Regions from separate parts of the Homo sapiens genome. Here region 2 is linked to region 1. The links come from fine-mapping of genetic effects on gene expression. A gene starts in region 1. The other region holds a variant in brackets. All regions are shown on one strand. Distances are from middle to middle. Region 1 holds the start of ZFYVE19 (zinc finger FYVE-type containing 19). Region 2 has its middle 1.6 kb from the start of PPP1R14D.

Region 1 (2,905 bases):
TTATTAGCCGGGCATGGTGGCAGGCGCCTGTAGTCCCAGCTACTTGGAGAGGCTCAGGCAGGAGAATGGCGTGAACCCGAGAGGCGGAGGTTGCAGTAAGCCGAGATCGCGCCACTGCACTCCAGCCTGGGCCACAGAGCGAGACTCCGTCTCAAAAACAATAATAAAAAATAATAATAATAAAGAATTTAAAAAATAATAATTTGTAAACATAGAGCACTTAGAATACTATCCAGAAAAAAAAAATACTGTCTAGGACATAGTAAGCATTATACAGATGTTAGGAATTATTAATCCTAAAATATTGAAACACGAGAGAGGTGGAGCAGATGCTTTTGATGCTTCATAGACATCCCATGGCCATTTCTGATTTCAGCTGCGGCTGCAGGGGACAGATTTGTGCAGGTTGACAGCATTTCTCAAGGGCCCTCTGGGTCTCTCTGATTTTCTGCCCCAGAGCTTCCTCTTCTCAAAAGCTCACTCACCCCATGAGCAGGGCAGCCCAGAAGTACTGGGACATTAGTGGGCACTATTTTTTTTTCCTTTTTTTTTTTTTTTTTTGAGACAGTCTCGCTCTGTCGCCCAGACTGGAGTGCAGTGGTGCAATCTCAGCTCACTGCAACCTCCGCCTCCCGGGTTCCAGTGATTCTCCTGCCTCAGCCTCCCAAGTAGCTGGGACTACAGGTGTGTGCCACCACGCCCGGCTAATTTTTGTATTTTTAGTAGAGAAGGGGTTTCAGCATATTGGTCAGGCTGGTCTCGAACTTCTGACCACATGATCCGCCCGCCTCGGCCTCCCAAAGTGCTGAGATTACAGGCGTGAGCCACCGCGCCCGGCCTAGTAGACACTAATTTTCTTTCTTTCTTTCTTTTTTTGAGAAAGAGTCTTGCTCTGTCGCCCAGGATGGAGTGCAGTGGCGCGATCTCGGCTCAGTTGGGCACTAATTTTCATTTGATGAACGCCTCTCCTTCGTATATTGTTAAAACTACCACCATGATCCAGGGGGAGATAAAAGAAATCCTAAATCCAGCTTGATCAGTGTTTCACTCCCTGGCATCTTTATCACCACCTAAGGTAGCATGGACCTCTATACCATCTGCCTTAACCTTCTGATCCTCCTGCTTTTAGCCCACTAACTAGCACATGCTGAGAAGGGCATCAGCTACTTGAAAAGAGTCAATGGGCTTGAGTGGAAAAGAAAATAGAGACAGCAGGGTCATCGGTCACATTGGCAAGGGGGCATGAAAAGGGAGTGGAGAGGCTTTGAGATCTTACTTTTCTTTCGTTCTAGGCTCTTAGTGGAAGAATTAAATCAGCCTGCAGAAGAGACTGAAATGAGGCACCTCTTGTCACAGTCAAGGCAGAAGCGGAAACGGAGGCCGAGACTGCGCAGGCGCAGAGGAGGCTAGCGTTCCTTGCTGCCTCGCCCCGCGGCCTCTAGGAGACAGGGGCCACGGGGAGAGCACAGCCACCCGGCGCGAAGAGCCCTCTGTACCCCGCTTCCTCTTGAGGCCCTCGGACCGTCCAGGAAATGTCTGGGAGCCCGCCTGCGGAGGGCATAGCGCCGACCCTCGCTCCCCGCCCAGGACCCGAATGAACCTGGAGAGCGGATGCCAGCAGTGGCCGAGGCGCTAGGACAGGAAGGACCGCCAGACCTCTCAAGATCAGCCTTCCTCGCCACCGTTCTCACCTCTTTGTCCGCTGCCTTCTCCTCAATGCCTAGCAGCGCGTACAGGTCCATCTGTAAGAGCTCCTTGGTCACTGCCATGGTTCCGGCCTGACGGATTCGTACTACAACTCCCAAGAGTCTAAGCGCGCGTGAGGACTGCAGGCTCCGAGCGGCGCCTAGCCCTCTGGGAATTGTGTTCTGGGTCAGGCTTGACTGACTCTGAGGGAGGCCGGCAGTCGTGAATGAACTACGACTCCCAGCAGCCCCCGTTGCCGCCGCTGCCGTACGCTGGCTGCAGGAGAGCGTCCGGATTCCCTGCTCTAGGTCGCGGCGGGACAGTGCCAGTGGGCGTGTGGGGCGGGGCAGGGCAGGGAAGGGAAGGGCGGAGCTGGGGTGAGGGTCCAAGGGGCCCAGGACTTGGCCGGCGTGATCTCAGCTCTGCAGACCCTGCGGTGCTGGGAGCCACCATGGAGAGTAGGTGCTACGGCTGCGCTGTCAAGTTCACCCTCTTCAAGAAGGAGGCGAGTCTTCCCTCCCCGAGGGCTGCAGGGCCAGGGAGGAGAGGAGGGAAAAGCGCGGGACTTAACGTCCAAAGACTTGGTCTTACGGCTCCTTTCCAGCTGTGTGGTTTTGATGAAGTCATTGATCCTCAGTTTCCATTTCTGTAAAATGGGGCTAACATTCTCTCGCTTTCAGGGTTTATGTGAGGGTCCACTGAAGTGCTTTAGGTGAGAGTTCCCTATAAACTGTAAAGCGCGCTGCCGTCGTTTTTGCAAAGCTACTCTTTTCTGTCGGCCCAGTGTAGCATCTGGCGGTTTTCTTCTCTCCACCCTGCTCCTCCGAAGCGCGGTGTCCATCACACCAAGCCCGTTACTCCCTCTGCTCTGAAATCTTCCCCATCCCGCAGCCTGCCCTTCTCCAGGTCGCTGGAGTTAGATTACCACACTTCCTCCTGCTTCCGGGGCACCATGGTGAAGGCTGACTGTCCTGTCCCTATCACAGACCTGCCAGATTCCTCTGGTAAACTGCAGGTTCCCTCTGCCTCAGTTGTGGCCAGGGATTCTGACCAGGAGATGATGGGAACTAGATGGAGTAAATTAGTGTCACGCAGGAAGGCAGGACCGTGCAGCATTCACCAACCTGGATTTTGGAGTCAGCGTTCAAATCTGAGCTCTGCTGTCTTATTGAGGCGGTGACCTTGGTTTGGATAAGTTATGTAACCTCTCTGGCCCTCT
Region 2 (2,905 bases), 23 kb after region 1:
TCCTGGCTCCTCACTGCCAGCCAGTGAGTGGCACTCCAGAGCCATGCCCCAGCCTCCCTTTCTGCAGCTTCTAGGGCCCAAAGTGGCATAAACTGCAGATGAGCAAAGGTCAAGAGGCTGCCATGCCCAGGGAGGAGGAAGGGGCCCTGGGGTCCTGAAGGGTACAGGGCTCCAATCGCTGCTCTATGGCCAGCTCTGGAATGGGACCTGAGTCGTTCTCACCTGAGATCCCTCTGTATCCCACCTTCCTGGGGCTGGATCCACTCTGGGCTCTGAGAAGCTGTGGTCAGATTCCGCAGAAGCAGGGTCCCTGGCTGGCAGGGATTCTTACTCAGAGCGTAGCACTACTGGGGGCAGAGCCCCAGCTGGTAGATAGAGTTGGAGGTCAGTTATTGATGGCTCCCGTAGGACCAGTGCCCCCAGTGTCTGGGTGTGTCCGAATGTAAACTGCTATCAGCCTGGCCTATAAAGGCAGTTTACCTGCTTGTAAAGGCAAATTTATCAAGACTTGTCTACTATGCCCGCTCCCCTGAGGCAACTGCTTAGGAAGCCATGTTTATTACCACGTGACCCTCCCCCGATTCATGTATTTGCTGACACAGAGGAAACCTGCAAACCTAACTTATACACAGGTGTCAGGGACTAATACTTCCAGGCATACATACTTGCATTCTAAGGCAGGGTATTTTTGTTTAGTCTTTTATAATGAAAATTTCTAAACTTTAAAAAAAAAAAGTGACAGAAGAACACTGTAATTTTTTTTTTTTTTTTTTTGAGATGGAGTCTCGCACTGTCACCCAGGCTGGGGGGCAATGCTGCGATCTTGGCTCACTGCAACATCCGCCTCCCAAGTTCAAGCAATTCTCCTGCCTCAGCCTCCCAAGAAGCTGGGATTACAGGCGCCCACCACCATGCCCGGATAATTTTTTGTATTTTTAGTAGAGACGAGGTTTCACTATGTTGCCCAGGCTGGTCTCAAATGCCTGACCTCATGATCCACCCGCCTCGGCCTCCCAAAGTGGTGGGATTACTGGAGTGAGCCACCGTGCCCAGCCTGTAATTTTTTTAAAATGGGGCCAGGCATGGTGGCTCACGCCTGTAATCCCAGCACTCTGGGAGGCCGAGGCGCGTGGATTGCTTGAGCTCAGGAGTTCAAGACCAGCCTGGGCAAAATGGTGAAATTCTCTCTCTACCAAAAAAAAAAATAATAATAATACAAAAAATTAGCTGCTTTGGGAGACCCAGGCGGGAAGATTGCTTGAGGCCAGTAGTTCAAGACCAGTCCGGGCAACACAGTGAGATCTTGTCTCCATTAAAAAATGTAAACAATGGGCCAGGCACGGTGGCTCATGCCTGTAATCCCAGCACTTTGGGAGGCTGAGGTGGACAGATGACTTGAGGTCAGGAGTTTGAGATCAGCCTGGCCAACATGGCAAAACCCTGTCTCTACTAAAAATACAAAAATTAGCCGGGCGTGGTGGCACACGTCTGTAGCCCCA[A/G]CTATTCAGGAGGCTGAGGGAGGAGAATCGCCTGGGCCCAGGAGGCGGAGGTTGCAGTGAGCCGAGATCATGCCACTGCACTCCAGCCTGGGTGACAGAGCAAGACCCCGTCTCAAAAAAAAAAAAAAAAAAAAAGTAAAAAATGAAAAGCAAGATTACTCAGATATGGTGGTGCACACCTGTCATCCTAGCTGCTTGGAAGGTGGGAAAATCACTTCAGCCCAGGAGTTCAAGGCTACAGTGAGCTACAATGGCAACACTGCACTTAAGCATGGGTGACAGAGCAAGACCCTGTCTCAAAAAAGGAAAAAGGCGAATGGATGACAGTTTAATGATGAAATTTTAGGCCCTCACTTAAGAAGATAAGGGAGGTGTTTGAGTGGCTGGAAACTAAGATGGCAGCCAGGAAAAGCCCAGGCTTTGGAGGAAGGCTGACAATCTGAGTTCAACTCAGCTTTGCCCTGCATTGGTTTTATAATCCTTGGCCAAGTTTCATAGCCTGTTTTCACATCTGCAGATTGGGCTTGTTGGGAAGATAAAATGAGATGATGCATGTAAACATTTAGCATGGCATCTGAAACAGAGTCCCTGTCAGTAGACATTCATTCCTGTCCTTTATTTACCTCCCCACTCTCCCTGCCCTCCTGGCGAGGCTCTGGTGGTCAATGCCTGGGCTTTCATCAGTGTGGCTCTCTTCCTGAGCAGGAGGAGGGGGGCCTCTAGGATGCATCTTGTTGACTCAGCTGTCACTTTAACAGTCTGTGGCCAGGAGGCATTATTATGGTAGTTCCCTGCCTCTTCTGTTTCCTATCTTCTGAAGGGTTTGAGAGCCCTTTCGGGAAAAGAAACTAGATGAGAAGAGTCACTGTGTTTTGTTCATTTATTTACTCACTCATTTAACAAAGATTTTATGAGCTCCCCTGGTAGGCCAAACATTATGCTCAGTGGTTATTCAAGAGCCACAGGATGGGCACGGTGGGTCACACCTGTGATCCCAGCACTTTGGGAGGCTGAGGCGAGAAGATTGCTTGAAGTCAGGAGTTCAAGACCAGCCTGATCAACATAGTGAGACCTTGTCTCTGTAAAAACTAAACAAAGGGCAGGCACGGTGGCTCACACCTGTAATCCCAACAGTTTGGGAGGCTGAGGTGGGTGGATCACCTGAGGTCAGGAGTTTCAGACCAGCCTGGTCAACATGGTGAAACCTCATCTCTGCTAAAAATACAAAAAGTTAGCCAGGCGTGGTGGTGGGTGCCTGTAATCCCAGCTACTTGGGAGGCTGAGGCAAGAGAATTGCTTGAACCCAGGAGACGGAGGTTGCAGTGAGCTGAGATCGTGCCATTGCACTCCAGCCTGGGCAACAAGAGCGAAACTCTGTCTCAAAAAAACCCCAAAAAATAACAACA

The links.
Region 2: its variant is fine-mapped to the expression of ZFYVE19 in caudate (GTEx, PIP 0.91).

What each region holds. Positions count from the first base shown.
Region 1 is chr15:40,805,678-40,808,582 of GRCh38, forward strand. ZFYVE19 (zinc finger FYVE-type containing 19) reads left to right here and starts at 1,412. Exons shown (of 11, transcript NM_001077268.2): 1 at 1,412-2,191. The coding sequence starts at 1,913. DNAJC17 (DnaJ heat shock protein family (Hsp40) member C17) reads right to left here and starts at 1,796. Exons shown (of 11, transcript NM_018163.3): 1 at 1,692-1,796. The coding sequence starts at 1,769. RefSeq lists enhancers at 1,075-1,164, 1,625-1,674, 1,715-1,764, 2,395-2,444.
Region 2 is chr15:40,828,828-40,831,732 of GRCh38, forward strand. No RefSeq gene overlaps it. Among named protein-coding and RNA genes, the nearest start is that of PPP1R14D, 1.6 kb to the left of the region's middle. The variant A/G (reference allele first, on the strand shown) is at 1,500.